Homo sapiens: one gene and its partners. The protein of the gene in region 1 purifies or fractionates together with the protein of each later gene. This does not show direct contact. Each region holds a gene or a part of one and is shown on either strand. Other genes may lie near its edges.

The links.
Region 2: the proteins of AKT3 (region 1) and AFAP1 purify together in Homo sapiens (affinity purification with mass spectrometry; one large-scale study listed by BioGRID and IntAct). This does not show direct contact.
Region 3: the proteins of AKT3 (region 1) and CALD1 purify together in Homo sapiens (affinity purification with mass spectrometry; one large-scale study listed by BioGRID and IntAct). This does not show direct contact.
Region 4: the proteins of AKT3 (region 1) and WDR1 purify together in Homo sapiens (affinity purification with mass spectrometry; one large-scale study listed by BioGRID and IntAct). This does not show direct contact.

The regions. Positions count from the first base shown.
Region 1 is NC_000001.11:243,843,744-243,847,243, forward strand, and holds part of AKT3 (RAC-gamma serine/threonine-protein kinase), read right to left. Parts: intron 1-3,500. UniProt on the Homo sapiens protein: AKT3 is one of 3 closely related serine/threonine-protein kinases (AKT1, AKT2 and AKT3) called the AKT kinase, and which regulate many processes including metabolism, proliferation, cell survival, growth and angiogenesis.
Region 2 is NC_000004.12:7,772,362-7,775,861, forward strand, and holds part of AFAP1 (actin filament-associated protein 1), read right to left. Parts: exon of another isoform or gene 2,543-3,500; coding exon 2,378-2,542; exon of another isoform or gene 650-2,377; coding exon 459-649; exon of another isoform or gene 1-458. UniProt on the Homo sapiens protein: Can cross-link actin filaments into both network and bundle structures. May modulate changes in actin filament integrity and induce lamellipodia formation.
Region 3 is NC_000007.14:134,929,634-134,933,133, forward strand, and holds part of CALD1 (caldesmon), read left to right. Parts: intron 1-3,354; coding exon 3,355-3,500. UniProt on the Homo sapiens protein: Actin- and myosin-binding protein implicated in the regulation of actomyosin interactions in smooth muscle and nonmuscle cells (could act as a bridge between myosin and actin filaments).
Region 4 is NC_000004.12:10,089,300-10,092,799, reverse strand, and holds part of WDR1 (WD repeat-containing protein 1), read left to right. Parts: intron 1-3,500.

The DNA.
Region 1 (3,500 bases):
CAGGTTCAAGCGATTCTTCTGCCTCAGCCTCCCAAGCAGCTGGGACTACAGGTGTGCGCCACCACGCCCTGCTAATTTTTGTATTTTTAGTAGAAACGGGGTTTCACCATATTGGCCAGGCTGGTCTCAAACTCCTGACCTCATGATCCACCCGCCTCAGCCTCCCAAAGTGCTGGGATTACAGAAGTGAGCCACCACAACCAGTCGTGAATACTTTAAGTGATATAAAATACAACGTACCAAGAACTCATCATTTACGTATTCTTACTCTGCCTGTTCCAAGAAATATTTTAAGGAGATTAAAAAATAATTGATTTCATATTATGTACTTATTATAAAGTAAAGTGAAACAAAGGGAATATGAAAGTAGAAAAAAATATTTAGTACTCAAGATGTGCCAAGAACTGTTACGGGTACTTACATCTATTATTCTTATGTGATCTTTATAACCTTATGAGGATACTATTAATTCCATTTCACAGACAAGGAAACTGAGGCTCACACAGATAAACCAACTTGCTCAATTTCAACACACCTAGTAAATGTGGAGCCAAGATCTGAACCCAGGCTGTCTGACTCCAGAGCCTGCATTCCAAAACTATACTGCCTTAAGATAAAAAGAAGTCAGAGTAAAGGCATACATACTTGGGAAAGATACGTCACAAATTTGGCATGGAGCTCTTGGGAAGACAATGCAAATAACAAAACACAACAGGCTTTCCTATTTACAGTATCCAAAAAAAATTTTTTTTTGAGATGGGGTTTCCCCCCATCATCCAGGCTAGAGTAGAGTGGCACAATCATAGCTCACTGCAGCCTCCAATGGGGGTCAAGCAATCCTCCCACCTCAGCCTCCTGAGGAGCTGGACTACAGGCAGGCATCACCATGCCTAGCTAATTTTTAAAAAAAATTTTTGTGGAGATGGGGTCCCGCTATATTGTCCACGCTGCACAAATTTTTTTAAAAAGCAAAAAAAGTTCCTCAGAAGAAATACAACTTTTCCTGGGACAAACATCGAATTTATCCCATGGGTCTTCTTCATAAGATGTATGCGGGAAAGTCCTCAAAAACACCCTCCCATATACAGCAATGAGTTTTACAGGGTCATTGCTTATTGTCACTCTCAAACTAAAAAGGAAAATGCCAACATAAAATTAGTAAATCCATTTGCACAGAAGGGGACCAAAAAATGTGGTCCAGGTACACCAGTGTTATGTGGTCAAGAATCATATCATAAATTTTAGATAACTAGAAAAATGGATAGATGGACTACACAAACATACTCTCTCAACTTGGTTTGTGATAAATGATACATAGCAGTTAAGTTCAGTGTTAGACTCCCAACCTAGCGCTAAATTAGACTACAGGTCATTCTTCAATGCAAATTAAGTGTGGAGCTTAACCATTTAACAGTCAGGAATCAAGACTAAACATTCTCTAGACAGCCTGACTAAATAGCCTGACAAAAGCTATGTAGCTGAATGCAAGACCACCAGCCTCATGTATTATGAGGTCACAGGCAGAACCTATAGGTAAGGCTGAGACTCCTCAAAATCACCATGAGTCTGTTGCTGTAGAGTGTCAAAAAGGGATATTAGTTTGTAATCCCAGCACTTTGGGAGGCCAGGGCAGGAGGATCACTTATGTCCAGGAGTTCAAGGCCAGCCTGGGCAACATGGCAAAACCCATCTCCACAAAAAATACAAAAATTAGCTGGGAGTGGTGGCAGGCACCTGTAGTCCCAGCTACTCAGGAGGCTGAGGTGGGAGGATCACCTGAGCCCAGGAAGTCTAGGCTATGCTGAGTGGTGACCGTGCCTGGGTGCTACAGTGAGAACCTGTCTCAAAAAAAAAAAAAAAGAAAAGAAAAGAAAAAGAATTTGGTTGCACAGTTGGCCATATTTTTGTAATATGCATGTAAAATCATTTTAAAATCTGTCTTGGGAGCCTCATCATAAATTTTTAAAAATCCATACATACATATAAAATGCAATTGATATATGGTCCATTAAATACCAAGAATCAGCTTGACAGAATTTACCCCCAGATTAAACTGAGCTACCCAATAGGTATGGAATCCTCTAACAAGGTTCATCACAATGGTGTATTAGGAAGAGCACCAGAAAGACCAAGAAACTTGAGTCCCTGCCCCACCCAGAGTGATGCTGTATAAGGTCACTTTAATTATCTGTGCCTCAGTTTCCGGAGCCATAAAAATGAAAGTATAGCATTAGATGAACTCTGAATAGCTTTATAGCTCTTCCAGAGCTAATATTTATGATTCTGCAAGTTAAAATCTACGGAGTATCTACTTCATATATAGATGGCATCATAAGTGAAAGACATGATTATACATACATAGTTCATGTCCTCAAAAGTTTGATAATTGGAAGATAAAACATTCAAACAGCATTTCAACTAAGACAAAATTTGGGCTAAGCTCCATTATTGGAAAAATACTGTCCTCCTTCCCCTCCCATCCCCTAGTCCCCCAAATACAGTCAGAAGCTTTCTAATATAGATTCCAATATACATGTAAAATCCTCCTAAAATCTGTCTTGGGAATCTCCCTAATTATAAATTTTTTTAAATCCATCCATATATATATAGGAATTATCTAATATAGGGAAGAAAAATTATCATTTGCAATTCTAGTGTTTTCTTCTAGTAAATCTTTTTACTTTCCTCTCATAATATTTAGAAATGAGAAATACCTGTAGTTGGTGATAGAGTACTGAAAAGAAACAGAACTAAAAAACACATCAACAAGTCAAGAAGCATATATTAATTTTATCTACCCATTAGTATTCAAAGATTACTTGGCAGAGAAAATGAGTTTACATCTAATTTGATTAAAGACTATGATGCTATAATAAAATCTGTAAACATTTGAGTTATTTAATTTGGCATTTTAAACAAATGAAAGGTGATGTTAATGGGCCAGTCAATACACTTTTATTAACTTGATGCTATGGAAATTATTGTACCAAATTTTGCAAATTTAGAATTATCACTGTTAACTGTAATAATAGGTACAAACAAGAAAAACACTAGAAGTGTTGCAGAATTAGGAAAGTTTAAATAAAAGGTATTTTTAGAATGCCACAATAAGTTTTTCTTATGTGAAAATCACTTTCAAAAGTGTAGCAGGGGTTGTTTGAAAGATTAAATGAATACAGGTAAAGCACATAGAACAGTGCCTGGCACATGGCAACTGCTTACCAGGCATTGGTTAGCATTAACTCTAAACTGAATCTAATCCTATCCCATGTAAAAGATCAGGACAAAGTATTTGTTGTCGGAAGATTCAGGACTATCTTTCCAAAAGAAGGTATGCTGTGTGACCAGGATTTAAAATACTGATGCACATGCTGAAACCTGGAGTAACACAAATCTTCTAACAAAAATTAATTGTATTATTAATGCATATTAACTTAAAAATAAAAATGCCAGTCAGATCACAAGACTGATTTGCTCAAAATGAAAATGGTTTTTCAGTT
Region 2 (3,500 bases), on another chromosome or scaffold:
GACTCACATGGGAAGAGGACCCCACTTTGTTCTGTTTGATTCTAAGAGGACACAGACTGCTTCATTCATTTCAGTTTCCCCAGCACCTGGCTTAACTCTCAGACATGTTAGACGGTTTGTAAGCACCGGCTCTACTGAACTGGCATCAAATCATGACCTGGTTCAGAAGAGACACGAGGACTGGATCTGTTCTAAACAGATTGTGCAAAGGGGAAAGACACAGACTCAGCATTTCCACAGCTTTTAACATTTCAGCGAGAGGTGAGAAAGCATGTCAGGAACACAGGCCCGGCCGATGAAAGTGTCTGATGCTAACACATGAACTGTCTTCTGCTGGGCACACTAAGGGGCCACAAGCAAGCTACGCCCCAGAGCCACTCCACATTCTCTCTGGGTGCACTGGCCCTCGGCCACGCAAGGCCGCGCCAGCCTCCGAGGTGAGCCAGAAGGACACACACCTGTGGACTCGATGTCCCTGACTTGGGCTCGATGGCCAGCCCCAGGGTGACTCCGCCCGCCAGCGCTTTCTTCAGGCTCTCCTTGACCTCCGTCAGCTCCAGCTCCAGGCTGACACGCTCCGCCTCCTTCTGCCGGCACTCCTCCTCCAGCTGCTTCAGCTTCTCCTCCAGGATCGCCTGCGGCTTCCTGCCTGGAATTCCCAGAAACGCCGTTACTCCCGCGGCAGGCACAGGTTCTCCAAACAACAGAGAAGGCACCTGGTCCCCAAGAAGAACTTCCACAAAACGTCTGAGGTCGAGCTCCCCTGACTTAGGTCCTCGTTGTGAAACTTAAATTCAGCAGTTCTCTAAGGGATCAGAGTCCTTCTCCTACCATTTCCCTTTGCTGCAGCCGTTGAGGACTCGGACCAGGAAAGAGGAGATGCTGATTCTGACGAAGGCCAGGAGCTCCTGGCTCTGGGCCTCAATGTTCTCATTTTAAAACGTGGACCCTAAACTCCACAGTTCCCAAAGCTGCCACCTTCTTGGAGTGTGAACCCTGTCCTCCCCTAACGCTCCGCCGATCCTTCAGTCATCTTATTTGCGCCCGAGGCAATGAACAGTAGCTCAGCTTGCATCTCTACTGGACATGGCACACATTTCTTTAAGGCACATTCACTTATTTTATTTGAGGTTTGCTGCAGTGACCTAAGATGCACCCACTGGGCAGATGAGAACACCAATCCCAAGAGGTGAACGGACTTGTGCCCAGGGCCTGGGCCGGTGGTGGCCGGCAGGCGAGGTTCTCTTTTTCAAAGCCAAAAGCACTCCTGGCCCTCCTGCATCTTCACTATCCTGCAAGCTGGGAACACGGGAGAAATGCTACTTCTGTCTCATTAAACTCCATGCCCCGTCCCATTCTCTGGCACAGCCTCCTCCCGTAGGGTCAGCCTCAGACTGCAGGCCACATCCTGGGCCTCCTATAGGGTCAGCCCGACCTGCCCTGCCAACACCTGCCTTCCCTCCTCTAAACTCCAAAAGCATTTCCCTTCATCAGATCATTGAGGCACAAAGTCCAGCAAGGCTGGAGCTGCTAACCACCTGCTGGGTGTGCGTCAGCTCCTCCCCGCGCGGCGAGCCATGGGAAGGCCACAGCCTCTTCTCTGGACCACCCAGGGCTCTGAGGCATCTGAAGCCCCCGTCCCAGCCCAGGCCAGTACAATCTCAATCTAAGGAGCCAGTCTTCCGTAGTCTAAGCACCGGGCTGGAAGGGAGGCCATGCGTAGGTAAGCGGTGCCACCCCAGGCTCAGGAGCTGAGCGCCAGCTCCCGCCAGCAGGAATTGCACGCGCCTGGCCCAGGGCTGCCACTCTGGCTGCAAACTCAGTTTCTGTGACTTCAGTCCCTCTCTGGTGTCTGTATTCCATTAGCCTGGCCTCTTCCCTGATGCATCCCAAGACAGATGCTGCCTTGCTCTCGCCTGTCCCTTCTCAACAAACGAGGGGCTGCTTCTACCCTTGTCTGGACTTCTGAATATTACTGACCCCTGTGGGCTACCCTCTGTAGAGAAATCCAGCTGATCCCTCCTACCCGGTGACCAGAATCTACTGCGTCCTGCGGATACAGGGGCCATCCTCCAGACAATCTCTGTTGTCAGCGCCAGAAGCCGGAACAGGTCCCCCAGCACCTCCCCTGCCTCGGTGAGCAGCGTGTGGGTCTGGCCCTGGCCTCTGCCTGCACGCCGCATGTTTGACCACACAGGCACCTGCCTCGGGGTTACCAGCAATGTTTCCAAGCCCCAAGAAACACTGTGAGATAACCCACTCTTACTAAATAAAATGACAGCCTTGGTGAGCAATAGGTCCTTTGGGCAAAGCAGAATGAAATCTCCAGTCTCTAATACAAACATGCACCCTGGGCAGTCACCCACACCCTTCATACCGGCGTTCACTTCAATAGCCGCTCGAAGGTCTTTTCTTTCCTTGCGGAGCTGGGCCAGCCTATTCCGCAGGGCCTCTTTCCTCTTCAGCAGCTCCTCCTCTTTGGTCTGTAGCCGCTTGGCATCTGCTTCTACCCGGTTCTTGCCATACTTGTACTGGGCAGCATCTTGAGAAGAAAAAAAAGCAGCAATTAAAAATTAGGTTTACTAGCCTGGGAAATATGGGACGATCCCTTCTCCACAAAAAATACAAAATTAGCCAGGCATGGCGGCACATGCCTATAGTCCCAGCTACTCAGGAAGCTGAGGTGGGAGAATCGCTTGAGCTTGGGAGCTTGAGGCTGCAGTGAGCTGTGATCCTGCCACTGTGCTCCAGCCTGGATGACAGTGAGACCCCGTGTCAAAAAAAAATTAGGTTTATTCAAGCAGATAATGGGGTAACTCAAAAAGCCTGTTGAATCAGCCAACTCAGTAAACAAACACAAAGCATTATTTTGCTAATTCAACAAGAAAAGGACAGGGCTGGTATGAACCAAGCAGAAAAGTGACTAGTTCAAATTCTCCAATATTCTTTGAATCAAATTCTTAAAAACGAAAACAGAATATTAGGAAATTCCTTTAATTCACTTCCCTTTGAGGCACACGGCTTATAATTAATCTGCAACAAGGTGGAGAATGAACATTCTATAATCGGAAAAGACAGGAGTAATATCAAAAATAATGTCTGAAATTTGCTTCCTTCTCTACGTCTTCAAATCCTTCCCTAACACCGCAGTATCTGTTCCTTATGGCCATGTCATCTGACTGGCTCTGAATTGCTGCTACACCCCCAGCACTGAGATTAGCACCCGGCACGGAGTGTGGCACAATAAATGCTTGTTTAGTGAATAAATGAACAACGGATACATGAAGAGGCAACCAGGAGCGGTATCTGGAGCCTGACTGTCTAGGAAGGAGTCCCAGCTTACACTTGTAGCTGCATGACCTGGAACAGGGCACGAATCCCTCTGTGCCTCAGTTTCCCTCATCCGTGAAATGGGGATAGTAAGAGCAGGCAATTCACTGAGTGGTTACGAGGATTAAATATTTATAAAGCACTTAGAACAAACACAAATGGGCAACACA
Region 3 (3,500 bases), on another chromosome or scaffold:
GTGTGTGTGTGTGTATATATATATATATATATATATACACCACATTTTCTTTACCCACTGCTTGGTTGATGGGCATTTAAGCTGCTTCCATATTTTTGCAATTGCAAATTGTGCTTCTATAAACATGCGTGTACCAGTATATTTTGCATATAATGACTTCTTTTCCCCTGGGTAGATACCCAGTAGTGGGACTGCTGGATCAAATGTTAGTTCTACTTTTAGTTCTTTAAGGAATCTATACTGTTTTCTGGTAGGTTATATCTTTAAATAAGGAAAAGTATTTACATTTATTCTGTAGGGTGTTGCTATCTGTTTTGAACTGAAGATATGTTAGTTTAGTAGAGTCCTCCATGGCTACCATTAATAGGTAACACGTGAATTTTTAAAGTGGGCATGAATTGCAGATGTCTTCTTTTTTCTAATATACAGCCTGAATCAATAGTCTCTGATCATTATAATATTCAACAAGATACAGAATTCCGCTTAATTTAATGTGATTATTCAAACACACTTAATGAGTTTGCTATTACGTATTTTCTCACTCGGGCCCTGGTTGAAATCAGGGAACTTGAGAATGCCTAATAGGTTCAACTTCTTCAAAGAGGGCTTTTGCAGCAGAAATAAGGTCACATGGTTCATTATGCTAATGGTTAGTATATGTCATTTATATTGTCATTTATGTGCCCCAAGGTCTAAAAAAGATGAGGATATTTGAGGAGGAAAATGGAGAAAATAATTTTAATTTAAAACCATGGACTGATTATAATGGTTACACTATATAAGATCTCACATGTGGTTTTGGTTTTAGTTTGTTTTGTTTAATTCAGTCTATTTAGAAAATTCTAAAGGGAATGGGTCCTGGCCTCCTTAACCCAAGTTTGAGAGGCTGTATTAGAAGGTTTCAGAAAGCAGTCTTGAAAATGTTGGCCGGTAGCACAATATTGTTTACCCTTTCCCTCAATAAGTAGCTTCTAATTGGGGAGTAGGTATAGCAAAGGGGAAATAGGTATAATTTCTAGGGTTCACTAATTGACTTTGACTCCCAATTTGACCTTTCACTAACTGTATTTCTTCAGTTAAATGGAAATAAAAATTATACCTTTCTCCAAAAAATGCTGCTAAACTTAAACTATGTAACAATACATGTAAAATGCAGTGTCTTACACATAGTAAGCACTCAATAAATTTTCACTGTTACCAGATTCTTAACACGGGAGGGCAACGTAGTCATTCACTGCCTTTTCCATTTTCAAGCTGAGAGAGAAATAATAGAAAGAGTTTTAAAAATGGCATTTTGATGCCTTTCCTGAATCTTGTTATTAATGAGTGGTCAACAGGAGCTTTAAAAATTACTGGTGATCTGTAGTTTTCTTGCTTTTAAAATCTTGCTTTTCCTTGTGCTTCTCTTCGGATATTTGGCTGTTATTCATTATTTCATGCTATTAATTGAAATCAAATTCTTTTTTTTTTTAGAAAATCATATTGAGGTCTGAGAATGTGTGATTTATCTCTGACATATTAGTTAGCCACAAGAAGAATAAGTCTTCTTGGGGCTAAACAACTCTAACTGGCATTTGATATCTACTGATAATTGTGGTCATGATTTATAAATAGGCAAAGAAATGTTCAATACAGTTTGTTGGTTTCTTAGCATAAGAGTACTTTAATCTGGCTAGCACTTTGGAATTTTGGTGCCTTTTAAAAATTATTAGAATTCAATTGATCCAAATGGCCCCTCTATAGACTTCCCCTTAAATTATAAATTTTTTGCATTTGTAGGGACATTTAATCCTTATATGTCTAATTTCATGGAGGCAATATCCTGAAGCAAAAGTAAAGGCCAAGAAAGTTTTAAAGCTAGTTTTTACTCTGCCATTTTCATTGTTAAATATGAAATGTGTTTTTTCCAAAATTAAGTGAATTTGAACGTTGAAAGGGCCAAGTTTGGTCTGAACTATGAAATTTGATGGAGTTTCTAAACATTGCAAGACAAATTCTTCCAACTCTGGTCACAGTTCTGGTATCACATGACTGGTTGTTTCCTGCAAATAGAAACCAACACCCTGGCTTGGACAGTGTCCAGCATCCTGCAGTAGTGAGGGAGGTGATGGACAACAGTTTAACTTTTGGAGATTTTCTTTCCTTTTTAAAATAAATGTCAAATTTAACTGCCCTTTTTCCACTGTAGAAAAGATGGACAAGAAACCCTTTATTCATGGAAATCTTGACAAAGAAGGTAGATTGTGTATACATTAGTTAGGGTAACGCTGGCTGCTATAACGATTAGTGCCCCCAAATTTTAAGTTTAGTGCAGTAACACTTACCATTATGCATATTTCTGTCTAGTTGGTAGAACCAGCCACCTGTCTTCTTTTCTCTTGTGACTCTCAATCCCTAGGGCTTGGTGCTCCCTGATCTACCAACAGACAGAGATAGAGAAGACAGGGAGTGCACCTCTGTTTGTTCATTGCCTTGGTTGGACACTTCTGTTTACATTTCATTGGCAGTTATTGGTCACATGGCCCGCCTAGGTGCAAAGAAGGGAGAGGGTGCAAATTTAATCCTTGAGTGGTGATCACTCCCCCCAACTATGGAAGGAGGAGCAGGAATTGTAAGGGACACTTAGATGTCTCTTCCATTGGGGTCACTGGCGTGAGTGTGGAATCTCAACACTGTAATGTACATTTTCTTCCTCTCAAAGTACCTTGGGAGCCTCCAATCCAGATCAGGAATTCTAGATGACTTGATGACATGGGAGAATACTACATGACATGGAAGGAATTCACTTATTATTTCAGTTTGATCCTTAAGTTTGAATTCCCCAAGAAGCAAGTCCAGAAACAACGATTTGACTGCAAGTCGTTTATTTGTAAGGTGATGCTAGGAAACACTGGTGGAGGTGTGGGAAGGTAAGACAGAAAAGGGAAGGCCACCAAATAAACGTTGCATGACCAAGCACATCACCACTGTGGGTATCTGGAGCTTCACTCCACTGGGAAACTCTGAGATCCAGTGTGGAATACACACCTCGGAGTTATCCCACTCAAAAAGTGAGGGGTGCTGAGGTATCTAAACACTCAGGCTATCAATTTTTGTTTGAAAACTGCTCCCAGGGGACATTAATACCGAAAGCACTTCTGGCATGTTGAGTAGACTCCAGTCCCCAGAGAAAGGCTTGCAAATGCTGTCAGCTGAAAGCCAGGCAGGCGTGTACTAAAATGGTAACGTACTGGGGATATGGGCAAGCTTGGCACTACTGGCATCTGCTGTAGTCCTGGGTAGCACAGGCTGTATGAATGCTGCTGACTGATGAATGAGCAAGCTGTCTTTGGTGTTGTTCTTTCTGTTGTACAGTGTGCCTGACGAGGAGGCCAAGACAACCACCACAAACACTCAAGTGGAAGGGGATGATGAGGCCGCATTCCTGGAGCGCCTGGCTCGGCGTGAGGAAAGACGCCAAAAACGCCTTCAGGAGGCTCTGGAGCGGCAGAAGGAGTTCG
Region 4 (3,500 bases), on another chromosome or scaffold:
CCCCGGGAGGTTCCCCAATCCCTCTCCCTCTTTGTTCACTGGCCGGGCCTCCGTGTGGAAAGGGCTATTTTTAGCCCTCGCTTTTTTTGGTTAATGGGCTTTTCGCGGCTTCTCTCTTTGAAGGGGCTATTTCAGGAGCAGACATCAGTGTCTGCATTTGGACTCCTTGGCTCGAGGTGCAGGAAAAGGTGATGGGGATGAGCTACTCGAGGGGCATCTGTGTCCCTGGACTGTGCCGGGCCCCTCCCTTGCCCCTGCTGGGTTCTGGGGCCAGGGAGGGACACATGACACCACCCTGCCAGAGCCTGTGGGAGGCGTCGGCAGAGGTGAACCACAGACTTGGATTTGGGGTCCTGGGGTTTGCGCGAGCAGGAATGTCCTCGCTTCTGGGACCTGGAACTGGAGTAGGAATGTCCATGTTTTGACCTCAGGGAGCCACTGAAATGGGCACTTGTGACAGGTTGGAATTGAACAGTGGCTGATTAGTTTCCTCCATTTTGTAGCAAGAGCCATCAGCGTCCACTGTCCCACCCACTCATCTGGGCTTGGGTGATTCGGGCATTTGGGGTGAGCTCTTTTCTCTTAGTTCTTAACTCATTCGTCAGAAGGACCCAGGGGTCAGCCAGGCCCAGCCATCTCCCTGGCCCACTGCACTTCAAGGAAGCTCAGGCTGGCTTGGAGGAGCCAGTGCGAAGTCAGCGGCAAGGCGAGGCTGTGCTGGCCAAGGAAGCGGAGTTCGGCAGCGAGAGAACTCGATGTGCTGGTCAGAGGTCTAGGATTCGAGCTGTGGTTATGTCATGGTCAAGGTTGTGTGGCCTCATCTGGAAGGAGTAGTGGTGCATACACCCCTGTCCACCCCCCGCCCAACAGGGGGTCTAGAAGTGCTTTGCCTCAGGCCCTCCCACCACTGCCTTCACTGCAGCCGGCTCCTTCCTGCAGCTCTCTCGGGAACTGCCCTGTGAGGCCCTTTGACACAGGGAATGTGGACCCTATGGACTGACATGGACAAGGGACCGTGGGCCATGTTGACACAGATAGGAGGTGGACCCCATCGGCTAACCCCGACGGGAACAGGCCCTCAGTGCATGACGGCTCCCTCATGGTGGGTAACAGCAGAAGGGGGGATGCAAATGGGCCTGCGGAGTTAGGGATCTGACCTCTGGGATGACTCTGGGCTGGAGCACCCCCAGGCTTGCTGAGCAGCTGCCCAAGGCCCAGGAGCCAGCGCAGCTGAGACGAGAGCTCTGGACAGGAAACTGGAGACCAGATTCGTGCAGGTGATGTGGCTTTGAGTTACCCGCTGCTCCAGGCCTGGTGTTCTCCTGTGAAGAATTTGCCCGCAGGCTCTCCATGGCCCCTCGGGGGGTAAAGCGTCTCTGGAGGGCCCTGGAGCCCCATCTGGAAAGTTGGTTTTCACTCTCAGCAGCTGAGTGGATCGGGCCTTCTGGGGAAACTGCTTTCCCCAACTTCACATACCTAGAAGTGCTAGAAAACTTAGAACACAGACCATTTAAGCAAAGAAGACCAGCCTTAGAACTAGTGAAAAAGGTACAAAAGGAACTAAAGAAGCAAGATGCAGAACTGCGCTTAAACACAAGGAAGGGTGACCTCTAGCACCATAGCCAGAGACGACCGTCCAGTCCTGTGTTCCCCGTTCCATCTCCTAGTGAGCCCTGGGCCCGCCTGGGTACTGCACGCCTTGTAGTTTGGCACTGCCTTGCCTGGCCAAGCCTTGCAGCACCCAGGTGCGGGGGGCAGGCAAAGGGCTCGCCAGCCCCATCGCTCATGAGCTGATCACAGACCTGAGCCCAAGTTCAGACTGAGCCAGCCTGGTGCTTCCATCCCTGTCCTCTTGGGCGGTGACCACAACCTACAGAGGACGAGCTCTTCAGTCATAGAACGGAATGCAAGCACCATGACAGCACTCCCTGAAATGAGGCAGGGAGGACAATCTGCTCATCCACTGGGATGGAAACGTGACTGTCGTCGCCCTCAGTAGCTCCCGAGGAGCACTGGGACTCCCCTTGTCAGAATGTGTGATTTCTCCGGCTTTCATCTAAGTTAAAACACGGGTCAATGAGGTGGGAGATCCTGGTTCAGGTGCAGGGCCAGGGCCTGCTGGGCCTGTGTCCAGCCTGACCCCAGCCGTGAGCAGGTCTTGGCAGCACCCTGAGGAGGGCTTACCTGAGGCAAGCAAGTTTGGGTTGTTGGCTGGAGGAAATGGTTTAATCTTTGAAGTGCAGGAAGCCCAGGGTTGCTTTTGTGCCACAGGTCTGGGGTCGCATCACTCTTGGGCCTAGAGAGATTTCTGGGGCGGGGAGTGGCCTCTCTACGAGAACTGCCTGCCCTGGGGACATTGCCAGACTGAACGGTGTCTGTATCTTCTGCTGACTCTGACGGACTTTGTGGGGACATCGATTTCCTTGAGTGTGGCCCTTGGGACCCCCAGGCACCTGATTCCTCTTTCTGGGCCTATGTTTCCTCATTGGTGAAATGGGCACAGCTCACCTTGGTGGGTTATTACATGAGTGTCAGAGGCAGCATTGATGACATGTGTTAGTGTGCCGCAGCTGCCATAACAAAGTTTGTTAAGCCACAGATTGGGTGCCTTAAACAATGGAAATTTATTCTCTGGAAGTCAGAAGTCTGTAGTCAAGGTGTGGGCAGGGACGCACTCCGAGTCCTTCCTTGTCTTTCCCAGATACTGACAGCCCTGGGGGTTACTTTTTGTGAGCAGAACTCCCATCTCTGCCTCCAGCTTCACCCCAACTCTGTATCTGTGTCCAGATTTCCCTCTTAAAAGGACACCAAGTCCTGCTGGATTTACAGCCTGCCCTAATGACCTCATTTTAACTGGACTGCATCTGCAAAGACCCTGTTTCTGAATAAGGTCTCATTGGGTCCCAGGGTTGGGACTTCAGCATGTCTTTTGGAGAGGCACAATTCAACTGAAAACATTACACAATCAAACACAGGCAGGTCCCCCACACAGGTAGCTCATGCTTTAAAATTAAGTCCGTGATTTACTTAGAGCGCGGGGCAGCTTATCCGCCTTGGGGTTGAATTGCTTTTCCTGAAGGTTAGTGTTCGTACCTGCTGAGCAGCGAGCCCTTCCTGTGCCAAGAGAGTTGTTAGCACTGGATGTGCATTTGCCGGGTTAGCGCCGCCTGCAGGTGGGCAGCAAGAGGGCAGGGCAGGTGTTGGCAGCTTTACAACTGCTTATTTAAGGATCAGTCTCTGATACAAACTCTTGTTGACTGCGGAAAGAATGCATTCATTTCCTTATTCGAGTAACAGAGTCGCCCCTGGAAGTCATGTCATTTCCTTTTAGTCGCTCAGGCTCTTGTTCTTGATGAAGGTCATAATCATTAACTTTGTTTAAAAGTTAATTATTGGCCAGGCGCAGTGACTTACTCCTGTAATCCCAGCACTTTGGGAGGCCAAAGCGGGGAAACATGAGGTCAGGATACTGAGACCATCCTGGCTAACAAAGGGAAACC